3 separate regions of the Homo sapiens genome follow, and all the other regions are linked to region 3. The links come from fine-mapping of genetic effects on gene expression. A gene starts in region 3. Each other region holds a variant in brackets. All regions are shown on one strand. Distances are between the middles of the regions. Region 1 overlaps PLPP7 (phospholipid phosphatase 7 (inactive)). Region 2 overlaps LOC105376299 (a long non-coding RNA gene). Region 3 holds the start of FAM78A (family with sequence similarity 78 member A).

Region 1 (5,216 bases), 28 kb after region 3:
GGGCTCCCTGGGCTGGAGAGGACCAGCTGGCCCCTCTAAGCTGGCTTCCTCAGCTGCTTCATGGGGCGAAGGGATGCCAAGGTCAGCACAGCTACCTCCCTCTCCCGCCTGCCCTGGGGACCTGGCAGTCCCCAGTCCCTCTCTCCTGCTGGAACTGTGACCTCCCACAGGCTTCAGATGGCACGAAACCCGGGCATGGTCAGCACACGAGCTGGCCAGCCACACGCCTCCCCAGCCACCTCCTGGGAAGACCCAGCCCAGGGGAACAGCTGCCGTGAAATTGGCAGGCAAGGGTAGAGCAAGGTTTTCTCGAGGCCTTCAGGCCCCGCCCTCCTTGGGCCAGCCAGCTCCTCTGTGTACCTGCTCAGCCCCCTCCTGTGCTGGCCAGGCACTTCCAGGGTGCAAGGCTCTCAGCCAGCCCTGTGGCTAATGAGAGGGGCCAGGAGATGCCACGATTCAAACCCCAAACAGAGAGACCAGACTACAAGCAGCAACCCTGAAGTGGGCAGGAAAAGGGGAAGCCCTGAAGTTCTAGTCCTCCAGGGAGGACTGCGTGATCTGGAACAGTCTAACTGCCTGGCATGGACAGTTAGGTGCACCACAGTGCCTCACACCCTGCAGCAAGGGGATCGGGGGTATGTGATGGTGCAAGACTTTCAAAAGCAGGCAGCAGAACAACATATGCAAACCATGTTACAAGCTTTATTAAATCTATGCTCCAAAGGCCGGGCACGGTGGCTCACGCCTGTAATCCCAGCACTTTGGGAGGCTGAGGTGCGCGGATCACCTGAGGTCGGGAGTTCAAGACCAGGCTGACCAACATGGAGAAACTCCATCTCTACTAAAAATAGAAAAATTAGCTGGGCGTGGTAGCACACACTTGTAATCCCAGCTACTCGGGAGGCTGAGGCAGGAGAATCGCTTGAACCTGGGAAGCGGAGGTTGTGGTGAGCCGAGATCACACCATTGCACTCCAGCCTGGGCAACAAGAGGGAAACTCTGTCTTAAAAAAAAAAAAAAAAAAAAAAAGCTGTGCTCTATAAGTGGATGGAAAGGTCTGGAACAATGACTACCTCTGAGGGGCAGGATTACAGGTGATTTAAACTCTAACTTTTGTTTTCTGTTTTGTAAATGTTCTGCAGTGAATAGCATCTTCTGTGTCTTTTTTTTTTTTTTTACTTTTTTTCCATTTCTGCCAAGAGCTGAACATTCCGATAAATACTGAAAAGTTTTCTAGGAAAGCTCCCAGCATCTGGCTGCACTGAACTGTCATTGAGTCATAACCCCCCACCTTTATCCAGCCCTCCTGGTGGGCCAGGCGTTTGGGGGACCAACTCAATCATTTGCTGCGACTTCCATGCTTTAGCACTGAATATCTTGTGTCCTAGGAAACCCCTCTGTCCCAGTGAAACCTTGTCACCCTGCAGTCAGCAACCTGCCTGCAGGCATGGTGCCTGGCCCCCTCTGGGAGGTGGGTGTCCCTGAGCTTCGTCTCACAGGTGAGGAAAGTTAGGTGGTTTGCCTGAGGTCACACAGCTGGGAGGCTCCAGGGCTGGAGCTCACAGCTGGGTCTCTGGCTGTGATGCCTGTGAGCTTTGCCACCACACTGCACTGTGGGTGTTGTCTTCACTGTCCGTGAGGCAGGGCTTGCAGGAGCTGTGACCTCACTGGGGTCCCCAAGGTCACCTGAGATGGGGAAGCACAGGGGGCAGGGGCACGGGCTCCCTGCCGACTCTGTACCTGCCCTGGGGGTGCTGTCTGGCCTGCTGATGCCACCCCCACCCCCAGGTCAGAGGGTGTGAGCCCCAAGGGCCTTTCTAAGGGTGTGGAGGGTTGACCTGGAACCCCCACATTGGCGGTCTGGGTGCCACTCAGATCAGCTGGGTGAAACTGGGGTCCTGGCATGGTGCCTTCCTCTCTCGGCACAGAAAGGCGGAGCAGCCCCCCAAGGCCACACAGCAGGGTGTGGCAGAGACACGATGGAGATCCAGGTCTCCCCTGTGTTTCCGAAATGGGGAAAGAAAGGCCAGGCGCAGTGGCTCACGCCTGGAATCCCAGCACTTTTTGGGAGGCGGAGGTGGGCAGATCCCTTGAGGTCAGGAGTTCGAGACCAGCCTGGCCAACATGGCGAAACCCCGTCTCTACTAAAAATACAGAAATTAGCCAGCCGTGGTGTCAGGTACCTGTTGTCCTGGCTACTCGGGAGGCTGAGGCAGGAGAATCACTTGAACCCGGAAGGCGGAGATTGCAGTGAGCCAAGATCATGCTGCAGTACTCCAGCCTGGGTGACAGAGTGAGACTCTGTCTCAAAAAAATAAAGAAAAAGAAAAGGAAGGAAAGAGCCCACCTCGCTGGTTATGAGCCTCAGGCCAGTAACTCAACTACGTTTGGAGACTGTGGCTCTGTTTCTAGCCACGGGGAAAAAAACCTATGAACAAACAGGCACAGCCCCTGCCTCCACGAAGTGATGACTTCATGCCGCAGACAGCGAACCCTCACCTCCCAACAGATGCCTCAGTGACTGCGGGGGAAAAGCCACGAAACAGAGGGCCAGATGTTGAGACTGAACCATTCAGGGCCTGAGCTGTCTGGAAGGCCGGGGCAGGTCCCTGAGGTGGTGAGTTGGGAAAGAGTGGAACATTCCAGAAAGCAAGAGCCTCAGGTATGAGTGCTCTGAGCTCCAGGGGTTCATCTTGTCCTCTATAAAGGGGGGAATGACACAGCGCAGTTGCTGGGGAAAACAGTGGGGTTCCTCAAAGAGTCACACACAGAGTTACTGTCATTACCAACCAGCGACTCCAGTCCTAGGGATCTACCAAAAGAACTGAAAACAGGCACTCGGCAAACACTTGCACACACGTGCATAGCAGCATGAGTCACGGCAGCCGAAAGGCGCAAACAACTCGATAGCCATCAATAGATGAATGGATAAACAAATTGTGGCCGGGCACAGTGG[C/T]TCACGCCTGGAATCCCAGCACTTTGGGAGGCTGAGGTAGGAAGATAGCTTGAAGCCAGGAGTTTGAGACCATCTTAGGCAGCAAAGTGGGATGCCCATCTGTAAAAAAAAAATTTTTTTTTAATTAGCTGGGCATGGTGGCACACTTGTAGTCTCGGTGGCTCAGGAGACTGAGGGAGGAGGATCTCTCGAGCCCAGGAATTCAAAGTTACAGTGAGTTATGATTGCACCACTACACTCCAGCCTGGGCAACAGAAAGAGACACCATCTCTGTCTCTCTGTTTCCCTCTCTCTCTCTTTTTAAGACAGGGTCTCACTCTGTCACCTTAGCCTCCTGGGTAGCTGGGATGAGAGGCGTGCACCACCACACTCAGCTAATTTTTGTATTTTTTTGTAGAGATGGGGTTTTGCCATGTTGCCCATGCTGGTCTCAGACTCCTGGGCTTAAGCAATCCTCCCACCTCAGCCTCCTGATAGCTGAAACTACAGGCGTATGCCATCACACATGTCTAATTTTTGTATTTTTTGTACAAACAGGGTTTTGCCATGTTGCCCAGGCTAGTCTCGGACTCCTGGGCTCAAGCAATATGCTCATCTCAGCCTCCCAAAGTGCTGGGATTATAAGTGTGACCCACCGTGCCCAGCCAGAGACATCCGTCTCTTAAAAAAAAAACACCAGGTGCGGTGGCTCACGCCTGTAATCCCAGCACTTTGGGAGGCCAAGACGGGCGGATCGCGAGGTCAGGAGATCGAGACCATCCTGGCTAACACGATGAAACCCCGTCTCTACTAAAAATACAAAAAATTAGCCAGGCGTAGTGGCAGGCGCCTGTAGTCCCAGCTACTCAGGAGGCTGAGGCAGGAGAATGGCGTGAACCCAGGAGGCGGAGCTTGCAGTGAGCCGAGATGGCACCACTGCACTCCAGCCTGGATGACTGAGCGAGACTCTGTCTCAAAAAAATCAAATAAAATAAAGAGGCCGGGCGCGGTGGCTCATGTCTGTAATCCCAGCACTTTGGGAGGCCAAGGCAAGCGGATCACTTGAGGTCAGGAGTTTGAGACCAGCCTGGCCAACATGGCAAAGCCCCGTCTCTACTAAAAATACAAAAATTAGCCAGGCGAGGCAGCGTGCGCCTGTAATCCCAGCTACTCAGGAGGCTGAGGCACGAAAATCACGTGAACCCGGGAGGTGGGCAGTGAGCCGAGATCATGCCACCACACTCCAGCCTGGGCAACAGAACGAGACTCCATCTCAAAAAAAAAAAGAAAGAGAAGATGAACAAATAGTGGTCCATCCATACAGTGGAATATTATTCGGCCATGAAAAGGAATGAAGCGCTGCCACATGGGTGGATGCTGGAAACATTATGCTAAGGAAAGGAAGGCAGACACAAAAGGCCACATGCTGTCTGATTCCATTTACATGGAGTGTCTAGAGGAGGCAAATCCTCTAGAGGAAAGCAGATTGGTGGTGTCCCAGGGGCTGGAGAGAAGGGGATGGGGAGTGGCTGCTTCGTGGGTATGGGGCATTCTTTTGGGATGATGAAATGTTTTGAAATTAGAGAGAGGAGGTGGCTGCTGACATTGTGATGTGCTGAATGCCGCTGAAGCGTGCACTCTAAAATGGTTCACTGTACAAGATGTAAATTTTGCTTCAATTTTTGAAAAATGGGAATGGGGCTGGGCACAGTGGCTCACGCCTGTAATGGGTGAACACTTGGGGAGGCTGAGGCGGGCAGGTCACCTGAGGCCAGGAGTTGGAGACCAGCCTGGCCAACATGGCAAAACCCCATCTCTACCAAAAATACAAAAAATTAGCCAAGCATGGTAGTGTGCACCTGTAATCCCAGCTACTCGGGAGGCTGAAGTATGAGAATTCCTTGAACCCAGGAGGTGGAGGTTGCAGTGAGCCAAGATCAGGCCACTGCACTACAGCCTGGGCAATAGAGCAAGACCCTGTATCAAAAAAAAAAAAAAAAGGAAAAAGGGCCGGGCGCAGTGGCTCATACCTGTAATCCCAGCACAATGGGAGGCTGAGGCGGGTGGATCACCTGAGGTCAGGAGTTTGAGACCAGTCTGTCCAACATGGCAAAGCCCCATCTCTACTGAAAGTACAAAAATTAGCTGGACGTGGTGGTGGGTGCCTGTAATCCCAGCTACTCAGGAGGCCGAGGCAGGAGAATCGCTTGAATCCGGGAGGCGGAGGTTCCAGTGAGCCAAGATCTCACCTCTGCACTCCAGCCTGGTTGACAAAGTGAAA
Region 2 (5,216 bases), 59 kb after region 3:
CACACATATTGCACGCAAAATGGGCTTGGGGACTGGTAAGCCCTCAGTAAATGTTTTGTTTTTGTTTTTTTTAGATAGTGTCTTTCTCTGTCACCCAAGCTGGAGTGTGGTGGTGTGATCTCAGCTCACTGCAACTTCCACCTGCTGGGTTCAAGTGATTCTCCTGCCTTAGCCTCCCAAGTAGCTGAGATTACAGGCCCCCACCAGCATGCCCAACTTATTTTTGTATTTTTAGTAGAGACAGGGTTTCACCATGTTGGACTGGCTGGTCTCGAACTCCTGACCTCAAGTGATTCACCTACCTCGGCCTTCCAAAGTCCTGGGATTATAGGCACAAGCCACCACACCCGGCATGTAAATGTGGTTTTTTTTGTTTTGTTTTTGTTTTTGTTTTTGTTTTTGAGAGAGTCTCACTCTGTCGCCCAGGCTGGAGTGCAGTGGTGCAGTCTCGGCTCACTGTAACCTCTGCCTCCCAGGTTTAAGCGATTCTCCTGCCTCAGCCTCCCAACTAGTGCACTCCAGCTTGGGTGACAGAGAAAGACACTAGCTGGGATTACAGGCATGTGCCACCACGCCCAGCTGATTTTTTGTATTTTTAGTAGAGATGGGGTTTCACTGTGTTAACCAGGATGATCTCAATCTCCTGACCTCGTGATCTGTCCGCCTCGGCCTCCCAAAGTGCCGGGATTACAGGCGTGAGCCACCACACCTAGCCCTGTAAACGGTTTTTAAACCATGACACTGGCTCCCAGTGCTTTGGGAGGCCAACGAGGAAGGATCCCTTGAGCCCAGGAGTTCAAGACAAGACTAGGCAACAGAGCAAGACCCTGTCTCAAAAACAAAAACAAAAACAAAAAAACACAAAAACCATGACTGCTGGAATCCCAAGGGCCCGGAGATGAAGAAGTGCTCTCCCCTCCACCTGCCTCTGCAGGGCTGTGTGGGTTGGGAGTAGCCATGAGGGCAGTGTCTGAGGACACAGGGCAGCTTCCTGGAACCTGGGCTGGGAAGAGGGTGCAAGGGGCAGAGCTGGGAGCAGGGGAGCCTCTCTCCTGGGGCCCCGGGCTTTTGTGCATGTGCCTCATTCCATCCTCTGCAGACCAGCCCCCTCTGCTATCATGGCTGCCCCTCATGGATCCCTCACCCCAAGTCCAGTTTCTCTTCCAGTTAGACAGAGCCCACCCCATGTGACCAGAGTCTCCCAGACCCGATTCCAAATGGCCAGGAGAGCTCAAACCCAGGCCCAGCTTGTGTCCAGCCCTGGCCGAGCCCACTCAGCTGAGGCTGCTGGCGGGGGCCTGTGGGTGCAGGCAGTGAGCTCTGTAAGAGAGGGGCTGCGCCACCCCTTGCTGTAGGACCCCAGCCTCCAGGCCAGGGCCCCTGTGTAGCAGGTCCTCAAAAAAGCATTTTCTAGGCCAGGTGCGGTGGTTCATGCCTGTAATTTCAGCACTTGGGAGGCTGAGGCAGGAGGATCACCTGACGACAGGAGTTTGAGAACAGCCTGGCCAACATAGTGAAACCCCGTCTTTACTAAAAATACAAAAATTAGCCGGGCGTGGTGGTGGGCGCCTGTAATTCCAGCTGAGGCAGAAGAATGGCTTGCACTCTGGAGACAGAGGTCACAGTGAGCTGAGATCACGCCCCTGCACTCCAGCCTGGGCAACAGAGCGAGATTCCGTCTCAAAAAAAAAAAAAAAAAAAAAAAAAAGCATTTTCCAGGACAGCTCTTGCTTCTTAGCCCTTCGCATACATCAAACCGTTTAGGAACACTGTCTAATTACAGCCGGGGCAGGACAGTTCTTGTCTCCATTTCACAGTCCGGGGAAGTGCTTTACCCCAGGCCACGTGGCAACTCAGGCCTGCAAGGCCCCAGCCAGGGGTGGGCAGGGCCGGTGGGAGGGAGAGGGTGCCTGGGGAGTTAAGAATATCCCTGCAGTGCTCAGCCTCTGGGTCTTGTGATGCCGAAACTCAAG[C/A]GCCCCCTGACTCAGCAGGATATTAATAAGCCTGGCCGGTTCCCAGGGGGCCGGCTCTGCCAGGGGCTGGAACAGAAGGACTCCCAGCCCTGCGGCCCGGATCCCCCTCCCCATGGCAACACAGCCCCACCCCTACTCCTTCTCCAGGTGCCCCCTAGCAGCCCCACAGCCCAGAGTCTCCCAGAACAAATTAATGTGGGGGAGCCCCCCAACCCACTGCTGAGCATATTGGGCAAATCTCACCGAGCTGAAGGGACCCTTCCTAGAAGGGATCCAGGAGGAAAGACAGAGCCAAGCAGCCTGGGAGAGGGAAGGGGTTTGAGCAGCCAACAGTGTGGGTTTGGGATGGGAGCTGAGTTGCAGCCCTGGTTCTCCCATTTCTAAGGTGCTCACTTGGGACAAATCCCTTATCAACACTAAGCCTTGGTTCCTTCCTTCCTTCCTTCTTTTCTTTTCTTTTCTTTTCTCCTTCTTCCCTCCCTCCCTCCCTCTCTCTCTCTCTCTCTCTTTCTTTTTGAAACAAGGTGTCATTCTGTCACCCAGGCTGGAACACAGTGGCACAATCATAGCTCACTGCAGCCTTGACCTCCTGGGCTCAAGCAATCCTCCCACATCAGCCTCCTGAGTAGCTGCGACTATAGGCCTGTGCCACCACACCCAGCTAACATTTGTATTTGTTTTTGTAGACACGGGGGTCTCACCATGTTGCCGAGGCTGGCCTCAACTCCTGTGCTGAAGCCATCCTCTGGCCTCAGCCTCCCAAAGTGCTGGGACTACAGGCATGAGCCACACACTGCTCGGCCTGAGCCTTGGTTTCTTTTTTCTTTTCTTTCCTTTCTTTTTTTTTTTTTTTTTTTTTTTGAGACAGACTCTCGCTCTGTCGCCCAGGCTGGAGTGCAGTGGGTGGCACGATTTCGGCTCACTGCAAGCTCCGCCTCCCGGATTCACGCCATTCTCCTGCCTCAGCCTCCCGAGTAGCTGGGACTACAGGCATCCACCACCACACCCGGCTAATTTTTTGTATTTGTTAGTAGAGATGGGGTTTCACTGTGTTAGCCAGGATGGTCTCGATCTCCTGACCTCGTGATCTGCCTGCCTCGGCCTCCCAGAGTGCTGGGATTACAGGCGTGAGCCACCCGTGCCTGGCCTTTTTTTTTTTTTTTTTTTTTTTGAGACAGAGTCTTACTCTGTCGCCCAGGCTGGAGTATAGTGGCTCGATCTTGGCTCACTGCAACATCCGCCTCCCAGGTTCAAGTGATTCTTATGCCTCAGCCTTCCAAGTAGAGATGGGGTTTCTCTCTATTTTTAGTAGAGACGGGGTTTCACCATGTTGGCCAGGCTGGTCCTCGATTTCTTAATGTGTAAAGTGGGGATGGTAATGGTACTTCATTTCTGGTTTTGCTATAAGGACCCAGTGAGGCAGCTGTCCTGAAGGGCGAGCCTTGGGAGCCCTGGCTGTCCAGGCTGGTCTCAATGGACCCGGCTGTCAGGGCCACTCTCGGCTGAGTTTCTGTCCTACAGCGCCCTCTAGTGGGAAAAGGTGGTCATTGCAGGGGCATCCAACTCAGGTGGCCAGGGAGCTTTCCTATCCCAAGTTGGAGTCCAAAATGTGCCCTTTCTGATCAAGTTAAATTCATGGCCCTTATTACATATGCACCAGCATGGTACGGCGAAGGAGGACAAAGAGAATGAGACCCATTCCCTTCCCTTTGGAGGCTCAAAGGGCAGCACTGCCTGGTTTGGGCATCAATGTGACAGTCAAGTCTGGGTCCTGGTCCTGCCCTCTCAGTGGCCTGCACAAGCCACACCCTCCCTGAGCTCCAGAGTCCTCCTCTGTAAACAGGATCACAAAACTTTCCGGTGGTAAGAGCTACGGAGAGGAACTAGGAAGAGCCAGCAGGAGGCTTGTGTTTGAGATGCGATGGCCAGGGAGCCCACCTTTGAGGAAATACCCGAAGCAGTGAGGGAGAGATCTTTGCAGAGACCTGGGAGGCCAGCGAAGGCCTGTGCCAGTTCAAGGAAGAGCGAGAGGTCAGTGGGGTCAGCGCGGAGCGATGGGGGCCGGAGGAGATGAGGGGAGAGGGGCTGTGTGTCACGATCAGTGCAGTAGGATGCGTAATGAAGGGCCCTGGCCCAGGTGGCCATGGAGGCCTCCCAGAGCAAGGAGTGTCCAAGCTGCGGGTGGCAGAGAGGGGTGGGAGAGCTCGGAAGACCTGATCCCAGTGCGGCCCCAACACTAACATCCTCTGTGGTCCAAGATCAGCCCACATCCCCTGAGCTCAGTTTCCTCATCTGCAACATGAGGGAGCTGGCCTAGCTACAGCCCCTCTTTCTCTAATCTGACACCTGCCGCTGGGGCCAGGGCTCCAGCCTGACTGCGTAATGCACAGGGACCCCCAGCTAGCTCAGGGTAGGCGGCGTTCGTGAAAGGTCCTCACACCCTCCAGTCCAGGCTTTTGCAACCCCTGGGCCTCAGCTGGATGTGTGAGTGGAGTAGGGGCAGCATCAGATCTTTTGACCTGAGGAAGGCCAGCAGCAAATGCCCCAGGATCTGAGAGCTTGCTGTGCTCGCTGCTACCAAGTTGTCTTTGCTTACAGGCTGTTAAGGGGTGAATTGTGCGTCCCCAAAAAAATATGCTGATGTTCTAACCTCCAGTCCCTCAGAATGTGACCTCATGTGGTCTTTACCGAGGTAACCGGGTTAAGATGCGGTCATCGGGGGGTGAGACCCTAATCCAATATGACCGGTGTCCTTATAAAAAGGGGAAATGTGGCCCGGTGCAGTGGCTCACGCCTGTAATCCCAACACTTTAGGAGGCTGAAGTGGGAGGAGCCCAGGAGTTTGAGATCAGCCTGAGCAACATAGGAAGACTCTGTCTCAATAACAACATAAAACTAGCCGGGTGTGGTGGCACCACATGCCATGGTCCCAGACACTCCGAAGGCTGAGGCAGGAGGATCACTTCAGCCCAGAAGTTTGAGGCTGCAGTGAGCTAGGATCACACCACTGCACTCCAGCCTGGGCCACAGAGTAAGACTCCATCTCAAAAATATGAAATTAAAATCAAAAGGAGGGGGGCAGGCGTATTGGCTCATGCCTGTAATCCCAGCACTTTGGGAGGCCAAGGCAAGTGGATCACTTGAGGTCAGGAGTTCGAGACCAGCCTGGCCAACATGGTGAAATCTCGTCTCTACTAAAAATATAAAAATTCGCCAGGCATGGTGGTGCATGCCTATAATCCC
Region 3 (5,216 bases):
CGACAGGGAGGGCAGGGTTGTCTCAGGTCCCAGTCTCAGGCCTAGCTCCAGCCACATCACCCACACCTACTCAGGGTCACCAGATGGAGAACAAGTCTTAGACAAGACATCGGAAGCCCATGTGCACAGATGGGGAAGCTGAGGCTTGGAGTCTGTACCTTGGGTCAGGCCTGTGGCCTCCCCACCACACGTTGCACCAACCACATTAGCATCCAGTCCCGTGAGTGCTCATGTCTTTCCAAGTTCAGAAGAACCCACTGGCTTCCTTACCCCTTCCAGGGAAGAAACTAGGCTTAGCCCAAAACCCCGAGGAAAACTTTTGTTTCTACAACTGTCCCGATGCCTTCAAAGCCCGAGGAGGTTTCTGGGCTTAAGCGTTCTTAGAAAAGGTCCTCACTGCATAACTAAGAATCATGTTTCCCTGCTTAGAACAGAAAGGCAGCACCCCCTCCCCCGAACTGGATTACTAGCTGCTCTTGAGACACAAAGGGGTTGGCACAGAAATCAGGCTGGTGGAGAGGGCCGGTGAGAGCCTCTAGATGTGCCCCCCATGTACCTCTTTGGGACAGTCACTGTCACACGCTGGACTTAAGGGTTACTGTGATCCTCATGTTTCCTTTAGAACTTTGGAGTCATTAAGTAGAGAAGCCACCAGACTTGGTGTCCCGCCATCCTCCACCCCTCTCATTTACAGGTGGCCCATGAGATTCTTAAATCTGTGATAAGTTCCAGCTCCTGGGGAAATTCTCCTCTTTTCCCCACTTGCAAAACGGGGACGTGAAGCTGCACAGGGTAGACACTGAGAGAGGCTCTGGGAGTGTCAGCGGCCAGTCACGGGGCCACAGGGTAGACACTGAGAGAGGTTCTGGGAGTGTCAGCGGCCAGTCACGGGGCCGCATGGGTGGGCTGCCCGCCGGGGCCTGCCTAGCTCTCTCCAAAGGGTCCTTACGCTCAGAAACAGCTATTTTCACCATCCCTGTCTTAGGGTGAACCTTCAGATTAAGTCACTCTCCCAACTCTGCCTAAATGCAGCTCTTTTCACCCTGGGGACGGCCTTCTCTGGGGTCAGGAAGCAGGCCAGGAAAGGAGCCCCAGGGTCCCAGGGTCCTCACCGGGACCCCCAATACCCTAGGCACACTCTGGAGACCGGGCTTTGGGGCTGCAGAGGAGAGGCTCCTCTTTGCTGTTCCTGTTAGGGCCTCGCCAGAGGGACACTGGACTTGTCTGCATAAAGCGGTCTTCTGCCTTGGAGACAGAAAGCGATACACTGTGAAGAAATCGGGCTTCTAAAACTAACTGTGCTCTCAAACACAGTGCCGTTTGGAACGGGGAAGCACTCCCCCAGCTCCTGGCATACACTGGTAAAAGCCAGAAAGATAATTGAGGCCCAATCGCAAAGCCCTGAACACACCGGTCTGGGAGTTGCAGAGTGCCTGAATGTCTGCCATGGGCCCGCACAGGGCCAGAGGCCTGGAGGGCAGCCCTGCAGCCTCTCTGGTGACCCCTGATGGCACAGACACTCCTCAGGCGGACGGCACACTTGCTCTGCCAGGAAACACTGGGAGTAATGTCTCTCTGCTTTCTCGGCATCTTGCAGGGAAGGACACAGGAACCCGGGGGGAACAGTGGCAGGGTAGATTGCAGGACCGTGACTCCAATCTGGATCCACAGGCAAACTTTTCAGGGAGCCACCGGGCCAATGAGGCCACCTGCATACCTGCCTAAAGCTTCCCTCTGGCCTCCGTCCTGTCTTCATGGTATCTCCACCTTCCCCCTATCCGCGGCCCCCCACCAGGCCTCCAAGCTCGGCCATCCCTAGCAGTTCCCAGAGCTGGCTCTCGGCCGTACTCACATGCCCTGCTCGCCGTACTGGTTGTAGAACTCCATGTGGCTGCACGCCTGGATCCAGCCAACTACCCAAGTCTCCTTCTTGGGGATGGGCGGCATGACCACCTGGGCCGAGGCCCGGAAGTGGGGTGTCCGGTAGCGGAGCACCACGCTGGAGGACTCATCGATGCTAGTGGGGACGGGGTCGATGGAGGCTTTCACATCAATCACCGTGATCCCTTCCCGGAAGACTCTGGCTTTGCCTCCGATGCTCTGAATACAGCCCATGGCATACAGGAGCGCTCTGATCTCCAGGGAAGGCCAGCAGTCACAGAAAAAACCAGGCATTGAAAGGACAGAGGCTGCAGGACCCAGTACAGACGGCGCTGCTCTCCAATCTCAACTCTCAAGACCGATATCCATAGGATAGAAAACTCACTGAGTAGACTGGGGTTGCATATATCACTACCGCGGCCTGTTTATAAATAAGGATTCTGCTGCATTTCATGAGCCCTGGGCTCTCTCTTCTTCTCCTCGCAGTGGACAAAAATCACCGATATTCTTTGGGTTAAAAAAAGTTTGTAGTTTAATGAATAATTATGCGGTTCTGACATCCAGCCCTTCTGTGCCTCACACGCGGGGACGGCAGCTCGCAGACTCTCCCTGAAGTCTTCGGAGGAAGCAGGCGAGCGCCGGCAGACTCATAAATAAGGAAGGCTCTGTCCCCGCGCGGCCGCGCCACCCTCGCGGCAGAAGCCTGACTTCCTGCCCTCCGGCCTTCCGCACGCGCTCCCTCCGGGCCCCGCACCCGCACCCGCCCGGCGCGGTCGAATCAATTGCAGAGCAGTTTGTGTTCACCCGGCCGAGGTCCCGGCGCCCTCGGGGCGAGCGCCGACCCGCGGCTTCCAGGAGGCGAGCTCAGGGCTCCGGCCGCTCGCCGGTGACGGGGGAGCGCGGCGCGGGTCCCCGTCGGCGCCCACTCGCGGGCGCGGGCCGGACGTCCCCACGCAGGGGCGCCGCGTCCCTTCGCCGCTGTCGCTGCCGGCCGCCGTGCAGGGTCCCGGGGCTGCGCTCCGGCCGCCGCCGCCTGCTTCGCCGCGGCCGCCGAGGACCTGGTGGGAGGTGGAAGGGACAGCGCGTCAAGGCCAGCCTCAAAGTTAAGCCGAACTTTGCTGCGGGGGGCGCGCGGGGGCGGCGACGCGTGTGCGCTGGGCGCGGGCTGCGGAGCTGACGGCGCAGCTCTGGGCGGTCTCCCCGGAGGCGGTGGCCCCCGCCCCCCGCGCCCGCCCCGTCAGTGGCGGCCGCACGACCGCGCGCACCAGCGAATAATAGCCGCCCGTGACATCTCCGCTGATACCGTCCCGGACGGGCGGGGTGGGGGGCGAGCGGCTGCCGCTGCAGGGGGCGGCGAGCACTTGCCCTGCTCTGTCCCCACCGCCGCGCCGCCAGCGCCAGGTGCCCCTTCCCCACCCCGGTCCCTCCGGCTCCCTGGGCGCAGGGCCACCCACCAGTGCCGTCGGATCCGGCGGGCACCCCTTTCCCGGCTGGGGTCCCTCGGCCCTCGGAGGGCATAGTGCCCCCGCTCCGCCGCGTCAAGCGCCTCTGTCGCCCCTCTCCAGCCGCGAGCAGCCCCGGGTCCCCACGCGTCGGGCGCGCTCGCCGCTGCCGGGGAACTTTGGCGCGCACGCCCCCACTCGGGCGGCGCCGCCGACTCACCTGCCCCGGGGGCCACTCCGCTGGCCCGGGCAGCCGCTCTCCGGACGCCCCTGACCCGGCCGCGGGCACGTTCTTGGGGCGCCCCCACCCCCTTCCCCGGGCACTGTCCCTTGGCTCTACTGGAGTCTGGGGCCGGCGTGGGCGCCCCCGGCCCCCACCCTCCTCCCGGCTTGGGGCTTCGGGGGGGCGGCCGGGGGCGGAGGGCTGAGGCTCGGGGCTCTCTCGCCCCCACCCCGCGCGCCTCCTTTATTTTATGATCATTGTGAGCGCGCTGTCGCCGCTCAGCCCCGCCGCCGCGCCGCTGCCGCCTGGCGCGCCCCGCGCTGCCTCGCTCTGCTGCAGCATCGGAAAGGCAACCGGGTCAAACTTTGCAGAAACTCGGCCCCTGCGCCGGCCCGGCCCCCGCGTCCGCTCGCCGCCGCCGCCGGCCGAGCGCAGCCGGCGCACGCAGGGACCGCCGCCCGCTCGCCGGCCCCGCGGGGATGCAGGTCCGCAGGCGGCGGCGGCGGCGGCGGGCGGGCGCCGCCTCCTCCTCCCCGCCCGCCTGGCTCTCCACCCTCGCTCCCCGCACACAGCCCGCCCTCCCCCTGGTAATCCCTCGCTCCCCCTCGCTCCCTGTCTCTGCAGCTGCTCGGGGAGCTGAGCCTCTCCTTGAACAAACGACATTTCCTTTTTGGCCAGCCCCGGGAATTCTGGGTAGTGTAGTTCCGCTGCTGTCTCGGGGCCAGGTGGGCTGCTCCCAGTGCCCTTTGAACTCTATGGACCAGAGGCTTTCTGGGGTTCGGAGCACCCGCAGAAGGGCTCCCTTGCCCTGGGGTTCCTGACCGCAGGGAGACAGTGGCTTGGTGGAGACAGCGCGGGGGCTTTGTAGGCTCCAAGGCTGGGAAGGTCGCGGGGAGGGGAGAGCAGTTTGGGGAGAGGTGGGTCCCCTCGAGCAGGTCTGCTGGCTGCCTGTTGGACCCCGGCTGTGTGATGAGCGCTGTACAGAGCATCATTTCAGCCACCATCGGCCTCCCTGTGGAGGGAGACTGATGATGTGCACTTCACAGAGCAGGCACCCAGAGCTGAGAGGCTAGGGGATTTGCCCAAGGTCCTTCCCCCCGTCCCCCCGCAGGGGTCCCAGTGCAGGGGCTCAAAAGGAGCATGAGGCTGTACAGCCATGGGAGAGCTATGAACCCCACCCCTACCTTCCAGCCAGCCGTAGGGAAAGCCCAAGCAATTTGTGACATAAGTACATCTGGCAGCTACATTAAAGCCACGCTCTTCGTCCCCACCCCATCCCCATGACTCTGACTTCCACAGGTGCCCACAGCCGGCACAGGGCAGGTGCTTCCAGCCAGTCCCAGAGCCGGAGCACGCTGAGTGTGTGAGGGCAGGGCTGGAGGGACCGAGGGGCTGGCCACTCTTGGATCTCTCCTTTGAGGGGTTAACAACCAGGACATCTCACAGCAGCACCGGCTCAGCCATGGAGCAGGAAGTGGCTGGCTAGGGTGGCCTCCGCCTCTCACCCAGCCACACCCTCACCCCAGCACTGCTATGGCCCGTATCCCCAGCTAATGAGGAGGTGGTCCCTTTCCAGTTCAGCTAGTAGGTGGCTTATTCCTAGTCCCACTGACTCGGGCCAAGGCAGGGCCACAGAGATGGCCCCCTTGGCCTGTTGGACACAGTAGAAC

Evidence for each region.
Region 1: its variant is fine-mapped to the expression of FAM78A in whole blood (TOPMed, PIP above 0.99).
Region 2: its variant is fine-mapped to the expression of FAM78A in left ventricle (GTEx, PIP 0.98).

What each region holds. Positions count from the first base shown.
Region 1 is chr9:131,302,327-131,307,542 of GRCh38, forward strand. All of the region lies in intron 1 of PLPP7 (phospholipid phosphatase 7 (inactive)), which reads left to right. Among named protein-coding and RNA genes, the nearest start is that of PLPP7, 15 kb to the left of the region's middle. The variant C/T (reference allele first, on the strand shown) is at 2,957.
Region 2 is chr9:131,332,928-131,338,143 of GRCh38, forward strand. The region is part of intron 1 of LOC105376299 (a long non-coding RNA gene); the gene reads left to right. Among named protein-coding and RNA genes, the nearest start is that of PLPP7, 46 kb to the left of the region's middle. The variant C/A (reference allele first, on the strand shown) is at 1,974.
Region 3 is chr9:131,274,005-131,279,220 of GRCh38, forward strand. FAM78A (family with sequence similarity 78 member A) reads right to left here and starts at 2,506. Exons shown (of 2, transcript NM_033387.4): 1 at 1,853-2,506. The coding sequence starts at 2,175. RefSeq lists enhancers at 986-1,045, 1,056-1,105, 1,186-1,235, 1,221-1,833, 1,246-1,295 and 3 more and a silencer at 2,676-3,855.